Homo sapiens: one gene and its partners. The protein of the gene in region 2 purifies or fractionates together with the protein of the main gene of each other region. This does not show direct contact. Each region holds a gene or a part of one and is shown on either strand. Other genes may lie near its edges.

Evidence for each region.
Region 1: the proteins of LPAR6 (region 2) and MTX3 purify together in Homo sapiens (affinity purification with mass spectrometry; 3 studies listed by BioGRID and IntAct, with this or other methods). This does not show direct contact.
Region 3: the proteins of LPAR6 (region 2) and TSPAN15 purify together in Homo sapiens (affinity purification with mass spectrometry; 3 studies listed by BioGRID and IntAct, with this or other methods). This does not show direct contact.
Region 4: the proteins of LPAR6 (region 2) and PKP2 purify together in Homo sapiens (affinity purification with mass spectrometry; 3 studies listed by BioGRID and IntAct, with this or other methods). This does not show direct contact.

The regions. Positions count from the first base shown.
Region 1 is NC_000005.10:79,988,262-79,995,148, forward strand, and holds the start of MTX3 (metaxin-3), read right to left. Parts: upstream 3,002-6,887; 5' UTR 2,978-3,001; coding exon 2,897-2,977; intron 2,403-2,896; coding exon 2,333-2,402; intron 1,976-2,332; coding exon 1,899-1,975; intron 984-1,898; coding exon 891-983; intron 384-890; coding exon 201-383; intron 55-200; coding exon 1-54.
Region 2 is NC_000013.11:48,410,624-48,417,721, forward strand, and holds LPAR6 (lysophosphatidic acid receptor 6), read right to left. Parts: upstream 2,491-7,098; 5' UTR 1,801-2,490; coding exon 766-1,800; 3' UTR 515-765; downstream 1-514. UniProt on the Homo sapiens protein: Binds to oleoyl-L-alpha-lysophosphatidic acid (LPA). Intracellular cAMP is involved in the receptor activation. Important for the maintenance of hair growth and texture.
Region 3 is NC_000010.11:69,454,465-69,461,464, reverse strand, and holds part of TSPAN15 (tetraspanin-15), read right to left. Parts: intron 1-7,000. UniProt on the Homo sapiens protein: Part of TspanC8 subgroup, composed of 6 members that interact with the transmembrane metalloprotease ADAM10.
Region 4 is NC_000012.12:32,872,763-32,879,799, forward strand, and holds part of PKP2 (plakophilin-2), read right to left. Parts: intron 6,271-7,037; coding exon 6,158-6,270; intron 5,782-6,157; coding exon 5,084-5,781; intron 1-5,083. UniProt on the Homo sapiens protein: A component of desmosome cell-cell junctions which are required for positive regulation of cellular adhesion.

The DNA of each region.
Region 1 (6,887 bases), on a different chromosome or scaffold from region 2:
TGTTCCCAATCTGTTTGATAGAAGATTTAGGCACTCCTTGGCATCTCTGTATATCTAATAAGGATGAAATTATATCTCAAAAGTAGAAAAGATACTCTAAAACTACTTTTGAGGAAGGCATCTCTAGGTAAACTCAAGTCTGCATTTTATCTTGTCCTTTCTCTCTAGGGCCCTTGCTTGAAGAATAATCCATACTATACCTGTGCTTCCACTTCTCGGAGGTGGTAGAGGGGAGGCTGTCCTCTGGTCAGGAGAATCCTATTCAGTGCTCCCTTAGACATTCTTCCAGGCAGGATCAAACTCAAAGGAAAAGGAATTTGTGAAGCAAACCATGGCTTTGTCACAGTAAAGTAATTGTCACTCTCAACCCAGAATGTGTGAAGCTGCAAAAGAAGAGAAAAAACACTACAAGGATGTTCTTTTATTAAATGAAAGATCACTCAATCAACATGAGAGTTTTTCATAAATATCTTTATATGAAGTGTCTTCATACAAATTTTCCAGTTAGAATGACTCAGGATAAAACAAGATTATTTTAAATGTGTGAGTTTTGTTGACTGCTATCTTCCAAACACCCAGAACAAGGCCTGACACATAGCAGGTGTTCAATAAACATTTGTTGAATGAATGAATTACACCCAATTCTATACATGGAGCAAAAAGATCCATCTCCCACAAAGAATTTCCAACATGACATTTTATTTTACTTTGTTGTTTCACATACTAGTTGAATGCCTAACAGAATCCAGTTTCACAGTAATATGAAGGAATTAAGATTAACATATAAGTAAAATTTTCTCTTAAGACTTTTCTCATTGGTTTTTTTCTAAACAGACTATGTACATTTGCAACTAGGCTACTAAAATACTGTAATATTTAAGAACACTCACCACTGCAGGGAGAAGCTTCTCTTCGAGGAGAGCAATATAAGCCAATGTATCTGCCCCTTGTTTTGCTGAGAGTTCATAATCAGCATTATATTTCTATTAAAAAAAAATAAACCAAAGAAACTCAGAAGTCAAAGAGCAGCCCAAAGACAGTAAAACTAATCAAATCAGGATTCATATTTTTCCTTACAAATAGCAAACGTGGTATTAAAATGGGAGAAAGAGAAATACAAATCCAGTGAAACCTATTGCTTAATGCACATAAAGTTCTTAGCACAGCATCACATACACAATATGGTCAATAAATGTTACAATATTAACTACTATTATTTTCATGCTTGTTAATGACCTAGTTCAGTGCATGGCATGTAGTACAAACAAAGCAACTATTATTTTTAACAAGAAGGAAACAGTTCCAATTGGCTGTGTTTCTCCCCAAGACAAAAGAAAAAACCTTCCAATTTATAAAAGTTCAAAATGTTATTGACACAATTTTTTTAAGTACAGTATTGGCAAAACAAATAACTTATCCATTCATATAAATCTTTACATGTTTAAACATTTTGGATACATAATTCTCTACTGTTAAAACATTTAGATACATTATTCCATAAAACTGCTATTAAGAGCTTTTTAAAAATAATATAGTTGCTAGTTGGTGAGAGCTCAGGTGTCATGCCCAGCACAAAATGTGTACCAACTATGTGACAAAATACACAATCCTATCAATAAGTTTAATAGTGAAAATGGCTAATTAAATCTACTTACATACAAATTTCAATAAAATTCAAGCAAAGTTTATTAAAATATAAACTGACTACCTCTTCATATGACTTTCAAATCACAGAACTCATGCTTTAGAGCAGTGATTCTCAAATCTATTTTTACATCTTGTCCCAGGTATCTCCAATTGTCTAATGAGTTGGCAAAAAAAAATAAATAAATAAAATAAAGCCCAACATGCAGGGATCAACAATCTACCAATCTACTTCTTCAAAGTGAACCACCCACCTGTTTTCTTAAAAAGTTTAGTATTTTTGCTGGCTGAGAAACCATGTCGTCTTCAGTTGTCAAAATTGGTACATCGCCTATAATCAAAAAACAGTTTACATACAAGGACACAGTGTGATTTCCTCTGAGAGATTCCAATATCCTAAAAACTATAGCAGTTGCACATTTAGAGGGGAAAAAATGAGTAAGCTTGTCTTGGTTTTTTTGCTGTTTCACAAAGAGCGGTTCTAAAGAACATTTTCGTTTCTCATAATTTCCAGTGATTTCGCTTGCACTTTGAGGTATTACTCAGAATGATCAAACCATAAACAACACAGAGCCAAGGTCACGGTAAGAAACTAAATCCTCAATATTATAGCTATATACCTCACAGCTTTAAATGGAAGAAGAAAAAAAAGAGTGCAGAAAGGGGAGTGTAAAGGTTTACACTATACCTCTTGAACCTCTCCAGGTGTTATCTATCACATTGACTTTCAAGGGTGCACCAGAAAATTTGGCATAAGCCTGAAACAGAGTTTGCAATCAAACATTTTAGACCAAGTGCGTAATGCAAAGCTGCAGAGCAGCTTTACTTCACAGCCCCATCCCCCAAAGGCAGAAGGCGACTGATACTGAGGCCGCATCCCTCCCCGTGATCTCAAGTAGGGACGCGGGCGCCAGCCACCCGGCTTTCGAGGACTTTGCTCCCCAAAAGGTCCTGGGGATGCAGAGTAGGGAGGGCGCGCCCCTTGCTTCGGGGTTTCACTCCACCGCCCAGACAGCTTTGTGAGGCGGACAAAACTCGGAGCCAAGCGGAGAAGCCTTGATGTCGCCGCCGGCCTTCGGCGGGGGTATCGGCCAGGTTGGGACTCGTCGGTGGGAGGGAGCCCAGGGCAATGCAGCGTGCAGCGGCTCGGCCCTCCTGGACCCCGCAGCGCAGCGGGAAACTGGGGCAAGTCAGCCTGGCGCCTCCAGCCCCGCCCCTTCCTCCTGCGCCCTGGCCCGCGAGGCGGCCTCACCATCACCACCAGGGACTCGCTGTGAACCGATGGGAGTCCCCAGCCGCCTCCCCAGCAACTGAGTTCCAAGGGGGCCGCCATCTTGCGCGGGCCGACCTTTACTATCCCGGAAGTACTTTTCCTCCTAATTTCCGGCACGTGAAACGCGGGGGCGTGGCTAAGGGAGGGAAGGGTAATTTGGGGGCTCTTGAGAGATGAGAGAAACAACGACTGGAGGGATTAAGAAGAACTCTTAGGAGCAGCTTGGCCTAAAGGGTAAGAGTTGTGTGCCTTAAGTCAGACCCACCAGTAATTCTTCAAATATTAATATTTATTAGATCCCTAGAGTGTTCCAAACCCTTTGAACATTAAATCTGTGTGATGCCTAAATTAACCTGTTTGTAAAACAGGGATGACCCAGTATTTACAAGATTGTGGTATTTACAATGTCGGAGAGAAAGAACTTGGCACACAGGAGGCACTCAGTAATTGTTCAACCCCTTCTCCCATGTATGTGGCCTCTGCCTGCCTTTCCAGCCTCAACCTGTTCTCACCCTCATGTTCACTGGCACAACCCTGCTTAAAAGTTACAGTATTTCTGAACGTCAGGTAAATTGTGCCCACCTTCAGTGCTGGTCCTTCAATCTGGAATATCTTTCTTCCCTATGCAGCTGCTCCCTCAAAAATGAGCTTAACTCACCTTCCCTGTGATGTTTTTACAAAGTTAGGAGCTCTGGGTTCTTGTAGCCCCTTGTGCATATTTGAATTGTAGCTTCTCTCCCTAGCTACAGACCTTTTGCCTTTCACAGAAGAGGGCTAGCTTCATAGGTTTGGGACCTGTGCAGCCACACAAGGCTCTGTGCTTAAAAAGGCTCCTCATTTGGCTGATGCTCTTCCGTCACTGTCTTGAAATTCTTAAGTTTTGAACAAGGGGCTCTGCATTTTTATTTTGGACTGGGCCCCTCAAATCATGTAGCTCGTCATGTCTGTGGGCCTAATGAGCACAGACTAAATGTTTCTTGACGTTAAACCTGACAGTTTCTCAGAAAAACTATTAAAGAGGAAATTTTGGTCTTGGAAATGCTATGATCCAAACATATGACTGGGTCTCAGAGTTAGAACTTGGGTGCTGGGTCTTTTTTCTAGAAGGCACAGTAGTCTTTCTGGGACACCCTCGCAGTCATGCCTCTGAGTTCTTTCCTCTATTCCACTGAGATGGTCGGATCTTCTTAACTAAAACTCAAAAGAAACCTCTGCAACTTTTCGTAAAATTACTATTCAACAAATATTTGCTAGGCACTCCCTTACTGTTTACATAATCATTCAAATTACAGTGCCAGCCTGCTAAAGTCTTTTTTACATGTTTCAAAACCAAGAGTTCTAAGAAATGAAAAAGAGATATGTCAGAAATGAGAATTCATTAATAATAACTGTATAATTGGAAAATGCATAACATATGTACCATTAAAACTGTCGAAACATTTATTGAGCAGCTCCTATGTCTTAGACATCATAAGGTTCTGGAACAATACAGAAATATATAAAACATGAATTCTGTCCTCGGGAGTTTACAGTGCACAAAGGAGATATACACACACCAAGGTGTAACAAGTCAGATAATCACGAGTAGGGTTAGAAATATAAGCAAAATACTACAGAAACACAAAGGAGGGACAGTGCATCCTCTGTGTGATCAGTGGAGACTATCTGTTGAGTCTTCAGTATAAAGAAAGTAAAGTAATTCAACTTTCAGATTGTAATGGAACCTCCCTGTTTTGAGGGTTAGAAATGTCAAACCATAGACTGACAAAGGCAAGGCAGGGGGAAAGAAAATCCTAAGCCATAAAGCTGAGGGTCCATATACTACATTCAGGCATTTAAAACAATCATACAGAAAGAATGTGGATTTCCTGAGCCTTGTTTGTAGCAGGACTGAGAGGAGTGAATGAACATTCTTAGTGGACACATAACACAGTTACTCAGTTTGGCCTTCTTCCGTACTGCTGCTACTACATACAGTGATTTCATTTGCATTAAAGAGAAATTAAATCTCTTCCCTTAGTGTTGAATTGAGACAGAATAGCATGTCATTGCATCTGATGAAAGAATCCTTACACACAGGTTTATTAGTGCATAGATAATAGCAATCTTTTATTGCTGCAGTTCCTCTTGAGAGTCTGTATCTGTTAGATTGAATTTAAAAAACTCTAACATAGCTGATTGCACAAACAGGCTGAATACTGTTCCAGAGAACCACACAGAAAATTGAAGCCTTCAGAAATTATGCCTGGTATGGTTAGTTGGCTCCTGTGCCTTTTCCTGGCTGTTTTAGAGTATTGTTCAGAGTTCATCTAAATCATAACTTCAGATTCCTACCGGGAAGAATACTGTCTGCAAAACATCCATGTTTGTGTGGGATGGCCTGAATCACAGCTTTATAATGAGTATCCCAGACAGTGTTTTCCCCAAAAAAGAAATCTTATTTTTCAAAAGATGATCATTAAGAATGGTTTCATCTGGTGATAGTCATCTGAACTCAGGCAACCTGACCTTGGCATCCATACCCATCCTTCATGTGTTTCTTAACTTGGGAGCCACAGTGCAAGGTTTGTTAGGCTCTTTTTGTCTGGGTGATTAAGAATCTGGGAAATGGTGCTGTTGGGAAAGATGAAAGGTTTGTGACAAATGATGGTACAGTATATGGTCCCTTATGGGAAAATTAAATTGTAAAGTCTTAAATATCCCTTTGAACTTGAAGATTCTGTAATTTGTGTTCAGATATAAAATCCTTAAGGAGGGGAAAGAACAAACACTGAATAGAAAAAAGGAGAGCTGAGTTCTTGACTTGGCCTCTGATTAGCCATATGCGCTTGGGCCAATCATTTTACATTGATACCTCTGCTCATTCATTTATAAAGCAAAAGTTCTTTTATCTCTGAGATGCTATCATTTTATGTGTAATGAACATTTAATAATTTCTGACATTTATGGAGCAATTTCTACATGCCAGAAGTTGTTTCAAGTATCTAACATAACTTGCTTTATCTCCATAATGATTTCATGACACAGGTACCTTCCTAAGGTTAACTAACATCTTTGTGTCCCTCCTTGAAAATAGAAGAAAATATCAGTACCCATATAGCCAGTAGGTGGTAGAACCAAGATTTGAACCCAGGCAGTTTTGGCTTCAGAGTTTATACTCTTAACCACTGTGTCATACTGCCTCATGTAGCCTCCTGTGTAGTCCATTAAAAAGCCCAGTTTCACCCAAAGTGGAGATATCAATGCCATGATATTATTGTTATTATTTATGTAAATAATATTTGTTTAGTATTACACCATTAAACGAATTCATTAAGCAGCTTCTGTATGCCTAGCACACTGCAAGCCTGTCAGGGAATAAAAATTTATGTTCGCCTGTAATCCTAGCACTTTGGGAGGGAGGATCACTTGAACCCAGGAGTTCAAGACAAGCTTGGACAACATGATGAAACCTTGTCTCAACAGAAACACAAAAATTATAGCTGGGCATGATGGTGTGTGCCTATAGTCTCAGCTACTTGGGAGGCTGAGGCGGGAGGATGGCTTGAGCCCAGGAGGAGAAGATTGCAGTGAGCCGTGATTGTGCAAAAACTTATGTTCAAGCTTTTAGAGGCACAGTTGATGAAACAAGGCCCACATATTTGAACTAACTAGAGACTATTAGGAAGTACCATTTTGTCAAGAAGACAAGTCTAGTATGGTTTTAGACAAAGGCTTGAATGTACTGCAATGCTTGGCAAAGGCCTAATGAAAGAAGATGATAGCTGATCTCGAAGGGTGGGTACGTTGCATTTAGATTGGCACAGAGTAAGGCATTGCATATGGGCTGTGCTATATAAGTGAAGGCATAGAAACAGGACTGACTATGGCAAGGAATCTGAAGATGAGTAAACGAATGCTGGGTTTGGTTATAAGCTGGAGACTGCTCAGGGAGAGTATTGGTTGACTAACTTGAGAACCAGAATTGGAA
Region 2 (7,098 bases):
TTGCTAAGTAAAAACTTAGCAAAATGACATTTTATTAGTTTTCTCCCTCTCAATTTTTGTGGCATATATCATTTTGAAATTGGGTGCATTATATACAGAAAATCAAAATAGTAACTTCAAAGCATACCATATAGATAGCATCTGCTTTCTACAAATTGCCTACACAGACCAAACTCCCAAAATGTTATCAATGTGTTACTGCTCAAGATCTTCCAACAATGTTAATATGTCATCATTTCTACAGAAGACTACGTTTTTAGTTATACATATATTTTAAAATACTCCCAAAACATTTATTTCAAATTACTCTTCTTTCTCATTTGTTAATCATAGTTTAAGAAATATGATTAGTAGTTTTAATTCAAAATAAAAATGGTATGTTGAATAAAATATTACATAAACATAAATTAGTATAAAATAATTTAGTAAATTAAATCATTTAATATAAAAAGGAATTCAAAGACATTACAGATTGGCACCACATAATTTAAGTCAGTCACTTTTAGACACTAAATAACTTTAAGAGATTTTTTTTAATGAAGGAACAAATCAAAATGGCTCAGAAAAATCAGATGGAGTGGATACACAAATAAAATACATGTTAATGCTTAACACATTGAATACAAATTTTCTTTATACTAAAGACTTTAAAATGTCCATGTGTTAATTTCTTTTGGAGGTGGAAAAATAGTTTGTCCAAAAAGACACTTTTCACAGTTGAAGGAACTTGAAAGTTCTGTCCCAGTGAGTCCTAATGGTTTTATTTCAGGCAGCAGATTCATTGTCAAATATCTTACTTTTTAAGGTCTGTAGGTTATGCTGAATAAAATTCTCTGCACCATGAACTTCAGAGAATCTGAAGTCACTTCTCCTGACAGACCAGTTTTTCATTTTTATTGAATTCTGAATTGTGTCCGATGTAAAGTAGTAAACTATAGGGTCAAAACAACAGTTGGAAACAGCAATACAGAGAGTGATTGGGTACATTGTCCTTACTGCTGCCACTACTGAGCAATTAACAAATGTTTGTGTTCTCACAAGAGAATATAAAATAAGATTGATATTGTAAGGAACAAAACAGAAACAGAATATGATCAAATGTACAAAAATCATTTTTAAAACCTTAGTTTTGTTTATTTTGCTTCTACTTAATGTAACAGGTTTGGTTAAAGTTTTTAGCACCATACTAGAACAAGTTACATTTAAAATTAGAGGAATAAAAAATCCCACTATTTCGATGAAAATTACAATCCTTGAGAGATATGTTTTCCATGTGGCTTCTGGAAAATTTTCAAAGCAGGCTTCTGAGGCATTGTTACCCTGAGAGTGGGTAGACTGAACAAAAACGGCGGGTGCACTTCCTCCGATCACAGTTAACCACACGCCAGTGCAAACAATCTTTGCATTTCTTTTGGTTCTTAGAGTCTTTGACTTAAATGGGTAGACAATTGCCAGAAATCGATCTACACTAATACAGGTTAAGAACAGAATGCTTCCGTACATGTTGGTATAAAACAGCATCACAGAAATCTTACAAAGTAAATCTCCAAATGGCCAATTCCGTGTTGTGAAGTAAAAAATCCTGAAGGGTAAAGTAAAAACAAAAAGCAAGTCTGACATTGCCAAGTTAATCATGTAAGTTGTAGTTTCATTTCGGACTTTGAGGACGCAGATGAAAATGTATATGGCAACACAATTGGATATTAACCCAAGCACAAACACCATGCTGAACATGCACCCATACAAAGTGTACTTAAAGGAGTCATTATAGAAGCAGTGGGAGCTGTTAACGCTTACCATCGTAAAGGCACGTCCAATTTTCAGTTTGGAAGCACTTTCATCAGCTGCAGTCTCCTTTGGGATTCAGATTATAACCTCTATAACCTCCAATTTATTTGCAAATTATCTGGATCTTTGGATGGTTTTATAAATATTTCCTTTTTCTCAGAAATACCCAAAAGAAACATGAAATTTGTTGCTGTAAAATTTCCGCTGGGTTCTTCAACAGGAAAATATTTTCATTTGTTAGTCTTTAGAAAATCCATGAATTCCAAGGCTCAGTTAACTGACGAGCAACCTTTAAAAAATACAGTCAACGAGTCCAACCCATAGGATTATAAATTTAAAGAAAAGCTGTGATCTGTGACCAGAATGAAACCACTTGTCTTCTAAACTTGTATTTCAGTAGTCAAGATGAATACTCCAAAGTTAATGTTTCTTTATGCCTCAGAATGTTAAGCTTAAGTTATCAATCTTATTTTCTTTTCAGTGCAGAGTTTCAGAGACTTAAACATTCCCAATTTGTCCCATTTTACTTCTTGCTTCTTTTAAATGAAGTTTTCCTTTTTTGTTTTCCTGCAGTGGATCCCAGATTGTGGGTAAGCAGAAGAGTCTTTTAAAGATTCCGAAATAAACTCCCAAGCTTGTTAGCTCTTGTTGAATTGAGGCCTTTTCCTCAGTTGCCAGTTGTATCTTGAGGTCGCTTTCTCTGAAGTGAAAAAGAAAGGCTTCCTAGATTTGTAATATGACATCACAGGAAGAAGAGGCTGGGTTTGGACAAAGAAACTTTCAGCCCAGTTTGTTTGCACTTCCTTTAATCTGATAATGTGTCTGCTGGGAATATACCTAGGAGGCTTGCAAATGGTCACTGGCTGTTGAACTGCGTGGTCTGCTCATTAACTCTTTTTATGTGGAAATGCCTTCTGCGGTGCTGGCAACCTCTCAGAGTTGTTTTGATTTGTTTCAGTAGTAATAATTGAAAGAAAAAAATCACTATTCAGCCTGTTCTCTTATTCGATTGTTTTCGTGTTTGGGATATGACAATTTAGAAAAGAAAATGTGTATGGGTGTGTATTTATAAATTGAAATTGTTAGTGATATCTTAACATAGCATTTCAAAGAACTGTTTAATGACTATGAAACAGGGGCCTTTAACCTTTAAGGTATAACAAGCATTTGACTCTTGGTTTCTGAAAAATACTCAATATTTAATTGTTATCATTATGAGTAGCTCTTATCCTGGGTCTCATTAGTTTTTGATAAGCAATTTTCTAACATTCTTTCCTCTTTCCTATGCAGTTGTATTAATATTTTAGAGCTGTTTAAATTTTTAAATTACTCATTTCTCCAAAAGAACAAACTCAAGAATGTTTATCTTTGGTGTGGTGTTAATTTTACTTTCTAAGCACAAAATGAAATTGCATCTTTTTAAGCAAAATTTTTTTAACCTTAAATTGATTGAAATAAGGTTTAGAGAATAAAAATCCTACTACTTGGCAAAATTTTAGGTTCATAGTCTTATCTTCCTTCTTCCTCCCAGCTCTTCCCTTAACCCCTTAATATGACATTAACTATATATTGAAATATATTTCAGATTTTGTCTCCATCTAAAAGTTTCTATGAATGGTTTATATGTTTATATTTAAAGTATACTCATATTTTGGGCCAGGTGCAGTGGCTCACGCCTATAATCCCAGCACTTTGGAAGGCCGAGGCAGGTGGATCACCTGAGATCAGGAGTTTGAGAGCAGCCTGGCCAAAATGGCGAAACCCCATCTCTACCAAAAATACAAAACTAGCCTAGGGCAATAGTGCGTGCCTGTAGTCCCAGCTACCCAGGAGACTGAGGCAGGAGAATCGCTTGAACCTGGGAGGCAGATGTTGCAGTGAACCAAGATCAAGCCACTGCACTCCAGCCTGGGCGACAGCGAGACTATCTCAAAAAAAAAAAAAAAAAGTATACTTATATTTTAAAGACTCCAAAATCAGAAGAAGAAAGTGTGTGTAAGGTGAGGGTACTTAAATGTAGGTGTTATTTCCTCAAAGATTGAGGATATCACAACCTCTATGGCACATGTTTTTCTTGTTTTAAATATCATTTTCTTCAGAAAAGGCTAGATCTAGTTATGCCTTACTGTTATTATTTTTTTAATTTGGTCTAGTTTAAGCTGAAACTCTTCCTCTTGGGTATTAAGTAATTTAAGAACAATTTATTTTTTTCTCATAAATTACTTAGCTAGCTTAAAAATAACTTATTACAGTAAAATGTTTTGTGTTGTTTTGCACCATTCTTTCACACTCAGCAATTTTTGTCATTTGTTGATGAACTATAATCTATTTCTACTGTCTGGACTAGAAAATTCATCTATTATCAAATGACAAAAAAAGATGAGTATTACTTATAACCAATACTTAAAATTTTGAAGGGTTGAATATCTTTTATATCACATTTGGTATAGAAAAGATGTATGTGTGTGTTCTTATTAGAAGGCTGGTAGAAGCTGAGTGAGCATTAATGAAAAAAGGAGTGGTTAATAAGCTTGTATTCTCATTGGAAAAAATTTTCTGTTAGTAGTTATGTCTTACTGTTATTTTTTTTTTATTTGGTTCAGTATGTTTTAAAAAAACAAAATCTTAGTAATCTTCTTTCAAATTGATAGTCTCCTCTTTAGTCATCTTTAATTAATGAAATATATGCAGTTGTATATGCTGATCTCATCCTACTTTTACTTTCATTTTGAATATGGCGGCATTTTCTCATTCAAATAATTAAAATTTATTAATTCTACTTGGAATATTTTTCTACATATTGTCATTACTCACTTGACTTGTTATTCACTTAAGTCATTCATCTATAGTTTTTTCTTTTCTTTTCTTTTTCTTTTTCTTTCTTTCTTTTTTTTTTCTCACTCTGCCGCCCAGGCTGGAGTGCAGTGGTGCGATCTTGTCTTACTGCAACCTCTGCCTCCCAGGTTCCAGCAATTTTCCCACCTCAGCCTCCCGAGTAGCTGGGATTATGGGCACCCGCCACCACACCCAGCTAATTTTTGTATTTTTAGTAGAGATAGGGTTTTACCATGTGGCCAGGCTGGTCTTGAACTCCTGACCTCAAGTCATCCACCCACTTCAGCCTCCCCAAGTGCTGGGATTCCATGTGTGAGCCACCGTGCCCGGCCTGTTCATTTATAGTTTTTTAATGTTTGAGTTACTGGGGCTTAAAAATGGATAGATCACTATTTGTTGAATTAGGCTTTTCATTATTATCAGTATCATAGTAAATGTTTGTATAATTCTTACCACAATTCTTGGTTCTTTGTAGATGATTCTCACATGTTTGCTGATGAATGAATCATAAACTTGAATTTTGTTGCCAGTTGTTTCTACTGAGGAAGAGCCATAGCAGAGGGACTGTTTGAACAGGAAGAAGATAATTGAATACTGCATTTTTTCCAGATATTAAATTTGGCCTCTAATTAAGGAACCAAAGGGGAATTTAGAAACTTTGAAAAATTCTTAGGTTAGAATTGGAAAAATACAGAGTAACTACTTGCAAAGGGAGGTAATGAATCCATATAATCAATTATATTTAATAGATACTTTTGTATTTGATAAACTCAGGCAAACTGTTATTTTAATGTGAGATCTCTACACTTCTGGAACTTAACTCTGAGAATCAACTTATTTCTTATATGGATTTTTTGGGGGGAGCGAAAATTAAACAGAGCCAGATAGATGTTAAAATGGTGAACACAGGAACAGCTGGAGTCTGCAGCTCCCAGCGAAATCAACGCAGAAGGTGGGTGATTTCTCTATTTCCAACTGAGGTACCCAGCTCATCTCATTGAGACTGGTCAGACAGGGGGTGCAGCCCATGGAAGGCGAGCCAAAGCAGGGTGGGGCATCGCCTTACACGGGAAGTGCAAGGGGCCAGGGAACTTCCTCCCCTAGCTAAGGGAAGCCATGAGGGAATGTGCCACGAGGAACGATGCATTCCGGCCCAGACTCTATGCCTTTTCCGTGATCTTCACAACCCTTAGACCAGGCAATTCCCTCGGGTGCCTACACCACCCAGGCCCTGGGTTTCAAGCACAAAACTGGGCAGCCGTTTGGGCAGACACCGAGCTAGCTGCAGGATTTTTTCTTTTTCGTACTCCAGTGGCACCTGAAACACCAGTGAGACAGAACTGTTAACTCCCCTGGAACAGGGGCTGAAGCCAGGGAGCCAAGTGGTCTAGCTCAGTGGATCCCACCCCCACAGAGCCCAGCAAGCTAAGATCCACTGGCTTGAAACTCTTACTGCCAGCACAGGAGTCTGAAGTCGACCTGGGATGCTGGAGCTTGGTGGGAGGAGGGGCTTCTGCCATTACTGAGGCTTGAGTAGGTGGTTTTCACCTCACAGTGTAAGCAAAGCCACCGGGAAGTTTGAACTGGGTGGAGCCCACTGTAGCCCAACTGCTTCTCTAGAGTCCTCCTCTCTGGGCAGGGCATCTCTGAAAAAAAGGCAGCAGCCCCAGTCAGGGGCTTATAGATAAAACTGCCATCTCCCTGGGACAGAGCACCTGGGGGAAGGGTGCTATGGGTGGCTATTGGTGCAGCTTCAGCAGACTTAAACGTTCCTGCCTGCTGGCTCTGAAGAGAGCAGCAGATCTCCCAGGACATTGCTCGAGCTCTGCTAAGGGACAGACTGCCTCCTCAAGTGGGTCTCTGACCCCCATGTCTCCTGACTGGGAAACACCTCCCAGCAGGAATCGACAGACAACTCACACAGGAGAGCTCCAGCTGCCGTCTGGTGGGTGCCCCTCTGGGACAAAGCTTCCAGAGGAAGGAACAGGCAGCAATCTTTGTTGTTCTGCAACCTCTGCTGGTGATATCCAGACAAACAGGGTCTGGAGTGGACCTCCAGCAAATTCCAGCAGACCTGCAGCAGAGGGGCCTGACTGTTAGAAGGAGAACTAACAAACAGAAATGAATAGCATCAATATCAACAAAAAGGACTTCCACACAGAAACCCCATTTGAAGGTCACCAACATCGAAGACCAAAGGTAGATAAATCCATGAAGATGAGGAAAAACCAGCGCAAAAAGGCTGACAATTCCAAAAACCAGAATGCCTTTTCTCTTCCAAAGAATCACAACTCCTCGCCAGCAAGGGAACAAAACTGGACAGAGAATAATAAACTCCTCCAAGCCAAAGGACCATGTTCTAACCCAATGCAAGGAAGCTAAAAACCTTGAAAAAAGGTTAGAGGAATTGCTACCTAAAATAAGCAGTTTAGAGAAGAACATAAATGACCTGATGGAGCTGAAAAACACAGCACA
Region 3 (7,000 bases), on a different chromosome or scaffold from region 2:
GGTTCCTGCTCTCCCAGGCAGGAAGTGGGAGGGCTCTGAAGAGGGAAAAACAAGCCCATCTGGGCCAAGGCTGTTTTCCTTCCACCCTCCAGTGAAATACTTGCTTCCCTGCAGGCCCAGATGCAAATGTCTTGGCGAGAAAGTCCCTTTTGGAAAAAATTAAAACCCAACAGTAACCTTTCCCACAGTGAAACAGTTCTTGTCCCAGGAACACATGCAAATGATGGTTCTCACACAAGTTACTTCCCCGCTCAGGGCCTTAGTCTCCTCCTCTATAAAATGGGACAAGGCACATGGGGTCATTCTGAGAATGCAAAGAGATGAAGCAAACTGTGGTGAGACACGTGGCAGACGGCGTCTCCTCCCAGCATCTGCATGAACGGTTACCCAGCCAGATGCCCACTCAGCGCTCTGTGGGCACTGCCTCATCTAAGCCTCACCCCTGTGGGCAGCACAACAGTTATCCCCTCCCAGCAGACAAGAAAACCAAGGCACAGAGAGTTGTCCATGACTTGTCACATGGACCTTCTCCTCACCCGCCAACCAAGAAGTGCTCATCCTCCTCAGCTCTGCTTGGCCTCCAGACCTGGTCTTCCCAGAGGACATTTCTGACCTCAACACTCAGGCCCAAAAAACATTCTGTAGCCCGCCCTCCCTCTCCTAAGACTCATCTCCACTCCTCTCTGCGAGGCCTCCCTGCCCAGTGAAGCCCTCAGAGTCCTCCCAAAGACTCCTCTGTAAAACAGGACAAGACCCCCTGTCCAGCCCAGCTCAAGGGTCACTCTGAGAATCCAAAGAGATGAAGCAAAATGTGGTGGTCAGGCCACCACAGTCAGGCAGCCTAGCTCAGACTGGCCCTTGATGGAACCAGCTCCTCCAGCCAGCTGGTCTGACCCCTTGGGCGTGCATGTGGTCTTTTCCAGGGACTGGGCCCTTCCCACCCCTTAGTTCCTGGGCTAACATGGCACATCGCCAGAGGCAGAGATGGCTGCCAGCTCCTTCACAGGCCAACCCTCTAGCTGGGGAAGGTGACATCGTAAGTCTACAGTGTCTCTACGGTGTCTCTTCCTCACCTCCACCAGCCCAGGGGCCTAGCTTGGAGCTGAACAACTCATGCTGACCGAGGGCTGGGACCCCTCAGAGCCTAGCAGGACACTTCTCAGACGGCCTGCCTGGCCCCGCGTGCCTGTTGTGGCCTAGTGCTTCTGACAGTGTGCCATGGTAGCCCAGAAACTAAGGGGTGGGAGGGGCCCAGCCTCTGGAAAAGACCACATGCACACCCTAGGGGTCAGACCAGCTGGCTGGAGGAGTTGGTTCCATAGCCATCTGTTCTAGGCAGGCTGAGTACCCCCAGGGGCAAAGGAGCCTCCTCTGACAAGACGGATTCCAGAGGTTCTCATCTCATCTCATCTCATCTCATCTCATCTCATCTCATCTCATCTCATCTCCCCAACTACCCCTGAGCAATGCAAGGCTCCCAGGTGACTCTCCCTCCCTCCGTGGGCAGGGAGCCCTAGAGTCTCCCTCCATTCGTGGGGGGGGGGTGCCTAGAGTCTCCCTCCCTCCGTGGGTGGGGGACCCTAGAGTAGGCCCCGTGCTTTGGCACCTCTCATCTCACAGGATCCTCCCCACTGCCCTCTGGGGTACCCACAGAGGAGGCATCTCGGAGGCTCAGAGAGCTGGTCCTTTACCCAGTGTCACACAGAATAGCCAACACCTGATCTAGGTCTCTGGATGGCAAGACCACAGGGCCTGACAATGAAACCCTGCTTCTCAGTCACTCGAACCCCAAACTCTTCACACAGCCAGGCCCCTGCCACCCTCTCCACCCACAGCGCAGCCCTTCCCGGGCTTCCTCATCTGCTGTAGCCATGCTTGCGACCTGCCTCAGGGACTTTGAACTCATGGCTCTCTCTGCCTGGGATGCTCTGGACAAGTCTTTATGGCTGGCTCCTTCTCTATTTGAGCTTCAGCTGAAATGTCAGCTCCTCATAAAGGCTTTCCCTGACCACATCATCGAAAGTGGAAACGCCCATCCCTCCCCACTTGCTCCCTAATTTTCTCCTTAGCACCTATCACAAGTGATATTTATTTACTGCTCTGTCTTCCAAGGCCTGGACTAAACCTGTCTTGTTCATAGTTGCTTCCCACACCTATCACGGTATCACAGTGCCTGGCATTCAGTAGGCATCAAATAACTATTTGTTGACTTAATGAACAAACCAACCAACCAGAGAGCACGGCTGGTTAAGACTGAATGCTCCTGCCTTCCAACAAGAAGTCAATTCAAACCCATTCACATCTAAAAGTTCTCTCTGGGAAAGGTTGTTTTGTTGTTGTTTTTTTTTTTTTTTTTTTTGTCTGTTTTGTTTTCCCCCCATCAACCTCTTCTGACCAGACTTACCCAGAAAACATCTTTCCCCTGTGTGGAGCCAGTTGGTACAGAAATTTCATTATCAGTCCCTTATCAGGTTGACCGTGAGCCCCACCCCAGGGTGGCACTGTGAGTCACCTGGGAAGAAAGGCCTCCGGGCAGGAGGGCAGGTGGTTATTCCTGCTTCTCCAGGAACCAACCCAAAGGCAGCAAGGTCCAGTCCTACGACATAAAGCAATTCCTCTATTAAAGCGGGGAACGAGACCATGTACAAAGTCTAGGTTAAGAGCGAAGGACACTTCTCAGGGCCTTAGTTTGCTCATCTATAAAATGAAGGTGTTGGAAGGTTCTCCAAACCCCTGGCAGGGCTGCAGCCCTGATTCTCTGGATTTTAAAGGCTCTGTGGCCAGACTGGGGGAGGGGAGGACCTCTCTGTGCCCGAGGCCTGAGCCCAGTCTGATGCTATGAGATCATCTCTGACAGCCCGTTAGGCACGGCTGGCCACTTCTCCAATATGAAGGCTGCCCCACTTTCAGCTTCACTATTTGAGTTTCACTATTTGGAATGCTTACCTAGAGCCAGAAAATGAACTTTGCTCGACAAATCAAACACAATAAGAAAGATAATTAAAGAAATAAAATGTCTACATATATGTACAAGATGTCCAGATGGATGTTTACCAACATATAACAGTGGCTGAATCCCAGTGGTAGAATCAAAGGGGACTTTTGCTGTTTTCGTTGTACTTTCCCAAATGGCTTGAATCTTTTAAGCTATGCGCATGTATGATTTTCACAAAAATAATAAAGCTCTTCTCGAAAGTAAAAATCTCCTGGAAACTGTCTCCAGAGAAGTGCTTTCTTTTTGGCCTGGCTTCACCTAGTGCTTCACTGGGAGGCCAGGGACGTGGCCTCTTTCAGAAAGGTTATCTTCTACCCTCACCCTGAGACCAGGGAGAAACATACATGGCGCCTGGAAAGGTCATGGGGGCCCGAGGAAGAAACTGGAGTCAGGCAGCCTGGATCTGGTCTTGGCCTGTCACTGACTTGCTGTGGGCTTTCAGGCAACTCACTTCTCTTCAGGCCTCTGATTTCTTATCGGTAAATTTAAAAGGCTGCACTAGAGGTGTCTTTAACAGCCCTTCTCATTCTTAGTCTATGGCTCTTGAGCAGCAAGGCTAGAGAGGAAGGCAGGAAAAGAACGACTAATCCATGACTAGTTGATGGAGTGTTCATCATGTGCCAGGCACCACTCTAAGCTCTTCAGATGTATTAATCCATCTAATCTGCTTAGCAACTCTTCAGGTAGGTTAGGTGCATGGAAGTTATGTCTAGGCCACTTAACCTTTAAGTGTCAGAGCTGGGATTTGAACCCAGGCAACCTGGTACACAGCCCACACTCTTAACCATTAAACTATAAGAAATGTAAGAAATCACAGGCCAAGCTCTAATAAGCAGGTTCATCCTTGGAGAAAGCCCAGAAAGAGTTCCTATTGCCTCTGGCATTTGCTGCCTCCACCACCTACCCACCCTCAGCTCCTCCCTACTTGCCCCCAACTCCCACCAAGTCCTTTTCTTCCTGATTAGTCAACACTCCCCAGCCATGACACCTTTACCCACTTGAAAGTCCTACCCTGTTATCAAGGAAACAGGCTTGGTGCTCTGTGGAGAGTCCGTAGCACCATGATCAGCCCTGCCCACTTTGCAAAGTCAAGGCCTCAGCAGACCTGACCACTGCGGGTTACACCCCCAGCCAGGCCTCTGCCCCAAGCTGGATCCTCGCCTTGTAGGTACAAGTGGGACTCAATCACCATCATGCAACATGCCTCCCCTGAGCACCTACTGTGTGCACAGGCCCCAGGGGCAGCATTCAGAGGAGGATATGGATGAACTACAATCCTGACCTCTGGGAGCCCACAGTCCAGCAAGGAAAAGCAGTCCTGTAAACGGATCTCTAAGATACCCCGTGGGCAGTGCTAAAATTAGAGGTGTGTCCCCAATGGGCTGAGGGCGCATGTGTCAGAATGATTCACCCTGTGTGGTGGGAAAAGGAGGCTCTAAGTGCCTCAGCGTGAGCTCATTTCTCCCGCAGACATCCCCATGACTTACTGGAAGGGCCAAGGAGCACCTACCTGAGGATGCAGGGACCTGGGGTACATGCCAGCTCTGACAAGTGAGCCTCAAACACACCCTTTTGCAGCCCCAAAGTTCCCTGCCGAAAACAAGAGGGCCCTGAGTGTGGGACAGATAACCATAAGTGGTTTAGGGGTATACCTATCATAGGGACTTACAGACTGAGCTTTCCTCGTTCAATGCCCTTTCGACCCCTCCGATTGCATCAAGGAGCGGGTCTCAGTTTGGGTGCTAGTTTGTCTTTCAGCCCCTCAAGCACTTGCCAACCTACCTTTTGAACAGAGAGGGTAGGCGTCAGGGTCACAGCCTTCAGCACCCATGACATCCAGCTAGGATTTAGTATCATTGTTTTGTTTTCCCTGTACTGTACTTATTTTAAACCTTTACCTGCTATTTATGATGGGCGTCTTGGTTTCCCATTCATAATACTGATATAAAGCCTCCTTTTAAAAATAAATTTAAAGGCGTGCATATTCAGGGCAACTTGAACCTATGTGCCTGGAAAATAAAAAATATATACTTTAAAAAAGGGAAAAAAAGGAAAAGAAATTTAAGTTTAAAAAGGAAGTTTAGGCTGGACACAGTGACTCACGCCTGTAATCCCAGCACTTTGGGAGGCCCAGGCTGGTGGATCATTTAAGGTCAGGAGGTCGAGACAGTCTGGTCAACATGGTAGAACCCCGTCTCTACCAAAAATACAAAAATTAGCCCATCGTGGTAGTAGGCGCCTGTAGTCCTAGCTACTCGGGAGGCTGAGGCAGGAGAATCGCTTGAGCCTGGAAGGCAGAGGCTGCAGTGAGCCAAGATCACACCATTGTACTCCAGTCTAGGTGAAAGAGCGAGGCTCTGTCTCAAAAAAAAAAAAAAGTAAGTAAATTTAAATAAACATATTAAGTAAATAATATTACAATTGGTGTCACCTCTATATAGGACAATTTAATAACATCAAAATGTTAAATGCACATACAAAAACAGGCAAAGCTATTCTATACTGCTAGATAATCCAGTGGTGATCACCCACAAAGGTAAGAGATAGTGCCTAGAAGAGGGTTTGAGGGGTATCTGCCTTCTGCTGTCCATTCTGCTGGTTGACCTGGGGGCTCAGTGTACAGGTGTGTTCACTTTGTGAAAACTCATCAAGCTGTATATACTGATGGCAGGTGCGTGTCTGCATGTATAACATATATTCATATACCCCTTAACTCAACAACCCCACTCCTAGAATTACTCCACAGACATATACACCCATGCAAAATGACACATTCAGAGATACTCACTGTGTCACTGTTCTCAGTGAAAGAAAGAAAGGAAGAAAGAAAGAGACGGGGGGGGGAGAGAGAGAGAGAGAGAGAAAGAAAGAAAGAAAGAGAAAGAAAGAAAGAAAAGAGAAAGAAAGAAAGAGAGAGAGAGAAGAAAGAAAGAAAGAGAAAGAAAGAGAGGGAAAGAAAGACTGGGAACAACCTAAGAGTTCCCCAGCTGGGGACTATTAAATAAATGTGGCATAGCCTAGAGTGGAATCTATGTAGCCAACACACAGAATGAGGCAGCTCCTAGCAGATCTCCATAATTCACGTGGATTTAAATTTAAGTGAAAGAGGGGCTACATACGTAGTTCTGTGTATAGTGTGCTACCTTATTTTAAATATACATATGTTTGTCCTAGGACATCCTTTGACTACGATAGCTCAGAAAAGAGTGACAGGAAACTGATAACAAAGGCCTCCTCTGGACTGGGCAGGCCAGGAGAGAGGGGTAGGAGGGGAGGCTTGTCACTAACCACTACCCTTTCCTTTTTTTTTTTTTTTTTTTTGAGACTGTCACCAGGCTGGAATGCAGTGGCGCTATCTAGGCTCACTGCAACCTCCGCTTCCCGGGTTCTAGCGTTTCTCCACCTCAGCCCTCGCTGTAGCTGAAACTACAGGCACACGCCACCATACCCAGCTAATTTTTGTATTTTTAGTAAAGACGGGGTTCCGCCATGTTGGCCAGGACGGTCTTGATCTCTTAACCTCACGATCCGCCCGCCTCAGCCTCCCAAAGTGCTGGGATTACACCTCACCCGGCCTTACCCTTTTCTACTTCTAAATTTTGTAACAAGCCCATGCATGCATTTCTATCAGTAGTAATTTATTTTTTATTTTTTATTTTCTGCAACAGAGTCTCATGCAGGCTGGAGTGCAGTGGCACAATCTCAACTCACTTCAACCTCCGTCTCCTGAGCTCAGGTGATCCTCCTACCTCAGCCTCCCAAGTAGCTGTGACTACAGGTGCATGCCACCACGCCCAGCTAATTTTTGTATTTTTAGTAGAGACAGAGTTTCATCATGTTGCCCAGGCTGGTCTCGAACTCCCAGGTTCAAGCAATCTGCCCATCTTGGCCTTCCAAAGTGCTAGGATTACAGGCATGAGCCACAATGCCTGGTCAATAGTAATTTTTTTTTTTAAACCGAGTCTTACACTGTCACCCAACTACAGTGCCGTGGCACGATGTCAG
Region 4 (7,037 bases), on a different chromosome or scaffold from region 2:
GATGAAAGCAATGCTTTGGAAAGATGACTCTGGAATGGATATGTGTTTCTTGAAAGAGAGACAGCGTTGAGGGCACTATAAAAGGTTCAGCTGAGGCAAAAAAGCCTTGAACTGGGCTGTTAAAAATGGAAATGGAAAAAAAAGGTAGAGTTGAAAGAGATGAAAAATTAAAGAACTAAAGCAGGTAGTAATTAAGAGGACGTGGAGGGAAGTCAATATGATCTGTTTTCTGCTCTGCAGTGCTCTTGGTCACAAATTTGACTGTCAATCCTAGAGAAGATCCACCCTCTCTGCTTAGTCTCCCTCAACTAATCCCAGAGCACGATGCTCTTGTGGGTTTTGTTTGTTTTGCTTTGAGACAGGGTCTCACTCTGTTGCCCAGGCTGGAGTGCAGTGTCACGATCATGGCTGACTGCAGCCTGGACCTCCCAGGCTCAAGTGATTCTGTTGCCTCAGCCTCCTGAGTAGTTGGGGCTACAGGCATGCACCACCATGCCCAGCTAATTCTTGTACTTTGTAGAAGTGGGGTTTTGCCATGTTGCCCAGGCTGGTTTCAAATTCCTGGGCTCCAGCAATCTGCCAGCCTCAGCCTCCCAAAGTGCTGGGATTACAGGTGTGAGCCACCATGCCCGGCCCTGCTCTTGTGTTCTTTAAATTTCTGTAGACACTAATATGTATCACACAACCTAGCACTTGATGATATATCCTATTTTTCACTGCTCCTCTCCTAGACCATCATACATCTCACTCAATTTTCATCTTTTATTTATTTAATTATTATTTTGGAGACTGAGTCTTGCTCCTTCGCCCAGGCTGGAATGCAATGGCACGATACCAGCTCATTGCAACCTCCGCCTCCTGGGTTCAAGCAATTTTCCTGCCTCAGCCTCCTGAGTAGCTGGGATAACAGGCATCCACCACCATGCCTGGCTAACTTTTGTATTTTTAGTAGAGACGGGTTTTCACCATGTTGGCCAGGCTGGTCTCAAACTCCTGACCTCAAGTGATCCGCCCACCTCGGCCTCGTAAAGTGCTGGGATTACAGGCGTGAGCCACCGCGTCCGGCCCATTTTCATCTTTTGTGATGCTTACTGGGAAGGACCTATGAAGATCCTACTACTCATTTGCAGAACCATCAGCCTCCAACTGGTCATAAATCATGGTTTTAGAAAAATTCATCTATAATTTTTTTTGTGGTGATTCTTAAAAACCTTTTTCATCAGTTTGATTTAGAACATCGGTTTCATCAGTTTGTCTCTCTCACACTCCAAGTCTCAGTTTTTAGCTGCATTAGTAACTGTTTAACCAGCCATTCTTCTTTTGGAAAGCCAGGTCCATTGTTTAATACCTTAAGTCATTATGCAGGTTTATGGTTTTGTCCAGTTAATATTCAACATATATGAAAGAATACTCCTTTACATGTGGGAGTTTCACTAGGCATAAAAACTTAAATCCCCCCCAAAAAAGGGCTGGACAAAGTTTGACAATGCGGGACCAAAGAGAACACAGTGTGTGGTCTCAGGGCAGGTGTCCCAGGGAGCAGCCTGGGGAACTGAAATGAGGCGTGGAGCCCAGCAGAGGAAAGGGGGAGGTCAGACAGGCACAGGCACCACCTTGGGCATCTATCTTCCTCATTACACAAAATACGTCTGGCTCCCTCTCCTTTTCACAGAGAGCCAAATTTTCCTTTCATAATCAGAGAAAAAAAGTTGATTTCTATGATTTCTACTCTCTAGAATTTGGGGAAATCTCAGGAAGAGATTTCTTACTCATTATTTTTAAATTTCTTGACCCCAAGTGTTCCTTCTACTCTTGGAAATATGATTAAATATTATAATACAATTTACCCTGTCTATTAAAACAATAATCCAAAAATAGTATGACTAATACTTCTAGAATTTGAGCAACAAAAGAACCTAGATGGCAAAAAGTAAAATTTATATTTCATTTCTCCTTCCTTTAATTCCTTCACTCTTTCACCATATACTTATTTTTTGAAAGAAGATCTCATTCTGTTGCCCAGGCTGGGGTACAGTGGCACAATCACAGCTCACTGTAGCCTCAACCTCCCTGGCTCAAGCAATCCTCCCACTTCAGCCTCCGGAGTAGCTGGGACCACAGGTGGGCACTATCACGCCAGGCTAAGTTGTTTATCTTTAATAGAAGTGGGGTCTCGGGGTCTCCCTATTTTGCCCAAGCTGGTCTCAAACTCCTGGGCTCAAGCGATCCTCCAGCCTGGGCCTCCCAAAGTGCTAGGATTACAGATGTGAGCCACTGTGCTGGCCTCATCATATATTTATACAGTGCCTACTATAGGCCTACTTCCATTTTAGGGTGCTGAGAATATAAAGATGATTGAGCATTCACAAAAATCTCAAAGTCCAGAGGGAGAACAGATAAGCAAATGAATAGCCACAATATATTTTTCTGATAGAGACACTCACACAAGGCTGCTATCTGGGGCACCTAAGCTAGACTGGGAAGGAAGTGGTCAGAAAATAGGTGGTATCTGAGCTAAATCCAGAATTATAAGTAGTCAGACAAAAGTAGAGCTGCATATGTAAAGGTGTGGAGTGGGGGAAAAGAAGGAAAGAGAGAGAGAATGAATATGGATAAATATCTTGCATTAAGGAAAGTAAAGAGGTTCCAGGTGGTTTGGGTATTGGTATGTGGGTATGTTTGGGGATGGTGGTGATGAATGGCAGAGAAGAGTAGAAGGAGAAGAGGCTGAAGTGATAAGCAGAGCTGAAAACACAATGGGGCTTGTAGGTCATGCCTAAAAGCATGAACACTTAGTGGAATTATGGAAGGGTTATAAACAATCACATGTGGAAAGATAATTCTGACAGTCCTAGAGAACGGTTCTGACTGAGCAAGACCAGAGGCAGAGAGCCCTGTGTAATGGAAATGGAAAGAAGGGTAAAAATTCAAGACCCATCATAGAAGGAAAAATATGGCTTGGTGATAGGTGACTACAGAGGGAGAAGATAAGAATGACTTCCAGGTTTGAAAATAGTAGACTACAGCAGGAGGAGATGGGTGGAAGTTGAGGATAGGGAGATGATGAGTTTAGTTTAGGATATACTGAGTGTGAAATTTCCAGGAGGTTGTTACATTTTCATATAGGTCCAGAATTTGGCATCAAGGATGGAATTGCAGACAAAACTTTGAGAACCATAAGGATAAAAGTGAGGTACACAGAGCCTCTCTGGAAGAGCATCAAGACTTGGAATAGAAGGGTTACTGAAGATGCCTTCTTTGAGCAGGCAGAAAGGGAGCACGCAGAGAACACTAACAAAGAATGGCTGGAGAGGTGAGTGGAAAACCAGGGGAAGCTGGTGCCCTGAAAACCAAGGGATGAGAGAATTTCATGGTGTCTCAAACACCACCCACAGGTTGAGTAATATAAGCAGTGCTTATATTACTCAATATAGTGTCTGCTTAGGATGTAGCAGATAAGGCCATCATTGCTACATTTGTCAGGAGACTGTTTAGGTGGAATGGAGGGGACTGAAATCATATTGCAGTGGGTTGACGAGAGACTGGGAAGTGACAGGGTGGTTCAAGAAGCAAGGGACACAGAGATGGAGGGAGAGAATGCCAGTTGTTGGAGGATGTCAGATAATAATTTTGTTACTGTTAAAATCATTTTGCTAAAACTGTGGCTATCACAAATCCTAGGCTATGGTAGGCATTCCATAAATTTTGAATTACCTGTTTAAAAGCCTTTATCAGCTTTTTCCTCCATAAACAATGACCTGATACACTTTCTCTTTTTTTTTTTGAGACAAGGTCTCACTGTGTTCCCCAGGCTGGAGTGCAGTGGCACAAATCTTGGCTCACTGCAACCTCCATCTCCTGGGCTCAAGTAATCCTCCCGCCTCAGCCTCTCGAGTAGTTAGGACCACACGTGCACACAACCACACCCAGCTAATATTTGTATTGCTCGTAGATATGGGGTTTCATCATGTTGCCCAGGCTGGTCTTGAACTCCTAAACTCAAGTGATTCGCTCGCCTGGGCATCCCAAAGTGCTGGGATTACAGGCCTGGGCCACTGCTCCCGGCTTATTTTTCCTCTTTGTAAGTATGCTCATATTGCCTAAGGTCTGCTTACTATAAGAAATGTTAGAAATCTCATGGTGAATTTTACATCATAAAAAATATTTCCTGTGTTAAGATTAGATTAGCCCTCATCATTTTGAGAAGTAGTTTATTAATGATGCTACCTGGTCAGTGAGCATGCTGTACAATTTCACTTGAAGGGATGTTTAGAGGTAACAACTATCATTAGACAACTTTAGCAATCAAATGACAATAACATATCTAATGTTTTAGCCTAATGATGTTAGATCATTATTGCAGGAGTTACTGATCTAATCAGCCATCCATTTCTCAATCTTTCTCTTAGTAACGTGCACAGTTTATAAAATTTGTGATCAGGCATTAAACTTGAATAAGGGTTAAGTTCCAAACACTAAATTAGTCAAGCTATAAAGTAAATAGGAATGGAAAGGAATGACTTAAAAATTCAGTTATTTTAATAATTTAATACTGCCAAAAGAATACCCCTTCAAATCACTGACACTAGAAATCTAAAAGGTACCAAGTACCAAAGGAAGAAAAAAGACATCTAGAAGTCAGCCATCTTTCCTTAGCTCTTTTTACAGTCATAGTTATCCAAATGGCATTCGTGCTAAGAATAAGCATTTTTTCCTTTTATTTCATGGGATGATGAAGAAAATACGCATGCAATTCTCCAATTCTTGGCCTACTTTGGAGTTTAGAGCAGATTTTCATATGGCTGAGGGGTAGGGTCCCTTCAGCCAGCATCTAATCTGGAACAGATGGACTAAATGTCACATTTCCATACAAAGCTGCCATGTGAGCAGGTAGCTTGGCCCCTGTCCCTGAGGTAAATAGGCTGATCTGTCAATTAGGCAGCTGCCTGAAAAGTCATTATTTTAATCACTTATCTCTGGAAGCCCTTCTCTCAAGCCCCAGAAGTGCCAGCTCATGCTGTCAGGGCTGTGGGAACAGAATGTGCTGGCAATGACTGAACTGCAGAGTCAGGAGGGGACTTACCCCAGCTGGGAGTCAGTGAAAGTGCTTCTCTCAGTGAGCAGATTCCCACTTCCCCCTGCGGCCGCCTGGCCGACAGTCAAGTGCGCTCTCCTCCCGCTGGAATCCACGGCGACACTGGGCCCAGCTTCCCTCAGCGTGCGGGTGCTGTGGAAGGAGCTCTGATGCCAGGAGGACCTGGAAGCCCTGTTCTGAGTGACGGGCTGCAGGGGCACCAGCGGCCTGACCTGCCCGACAGTGAGCCCTGCCGTCAGGTAGTTCTCCTTCTCCAAGAGGTTGCCCATGCTGCGGCTGGTCCCTGGCCTGGGGTACGTGAGCAGGGCCGGGTTGGCAGGGATGCTGTCAAAAACGGTGTCGCTAACAGAGCCATGCTGGTACTGTCTGTGGTATGTGTCAAAGTGGCGCTGCCTGCTTGTGGTGCCAGCACGGCTGACCCCCACGATCTCGGAACGAGCATATCTCGGTGGCACTAGGAGGGCGGCCCGCCTGCTTTCTTGGTGGTGCAGGGTGTGCCCAGCCTGGCTTCTCTGGCTGTACTGGTAATCGCTGTGCGTGTAGTGAGCCCTCTCCGGGCTGCTGTCAGGAGAAATCTCCAGTCTCCTCAGAGGATGCCTCAAGGACCTTTCTTCCACGGACTTCTGGGAGCTGTACTGTGCTGTTCCTCTTCCCCAGCGACCTTCATAAGTGGCAGTTGTGCCAGCCTGCACATGAGAGAAATAAAGTTTAAAGGGGGCATAAATCAAATTTCAACTTTGCTGAGGACTAATTACTCTGGGACTATTACCCAACATGTCCGTTTCTCTGAATCAGATGACGAGAAGTTTGCCCCTTTCTGGGTAAAGGCTTTTTGAAAATAAGACTTGGTTGACTTGAGTCATATTTATTTGCACTAGGATGTAAGAATGTTTCACATCCCTAGTTTTCCATGGTATCCTCATAAATATCAATTTTCTCAAAACTCATTTAGGAAATGATAATACTTGGGAAAAGTAAACACTCAAAAATAATCTTAGGAAGTTTGAAAATATTTTCATGGTAGTAATCTGATCACTAGGGTTACATTCTTTGATATCCTACCTTTAGCATGTCATAGGTTTTAGGAACAGGGGAACGGCCTCCAACAAAATCATTTTCAACCAAGTGTAGGTTGTAGACATACTCAGGAACACTGCTGGTTCGGTGAAGATTTCCTGCAATCAAGCAAATATTAAAATAACTCAGAATACAAGTAGGCTAATTAATATTTACAGACTGTATAACAATGATGTATTAAACTTTTAAATTTAAGTAATGAAGGCCAAGAACAAGTATTAAACGTACGTTAATGTTTTTAAATGCTAGTTTCACACCACCCTGGGATATGGCAAGTGATCAAAGGTTATCAAAACATTCTCTACAAAAGTTTTTCAGCTGGGTGTGGTGGCGCACGCCTCTTATCCCAGCACTCTGGGAGGCAGAGGCAGGTGGATCACCTGAGGTCAGGAGTTCAAGACCAGCCTGGCCAACATGGCGAAACCCATCTCTACTAAACATACAAAAATTAGCTGGGCATAGTGGCGGGCATCTGTAATCCCAGCTACTCAGGAGGCTGAGGCAGGAGAATCACTTGAACTCGGGAGACAGAGGTTGCAGTGAGCCAAGATCACACAATTGCACTCCAGCCTGGGCAACAAAAGTGAAACTCTGTCTCAAAAAGAAAGTTTTGGCTGGGCACGGTGGCTTACACCTGTAATCCCAGAACTTTGAGAGGCAGAGGTGGGTGGATCACCCGAGGTCAGGCATTCAAGAGCAGCCTGGCCAACATGGTGAAAGCCCCTCTCTACTAAAACTACAAAAAATTAGCTGTGCGTGGTGGCAGGCACCTGTAATCCCAACTATTCGGGAGGCTGTGGCAGGAGAATCGCTTGAACCCAGGAGGTGGAGGTTGCAGTGAAGCTGAGATTGCGCCATTGCACTA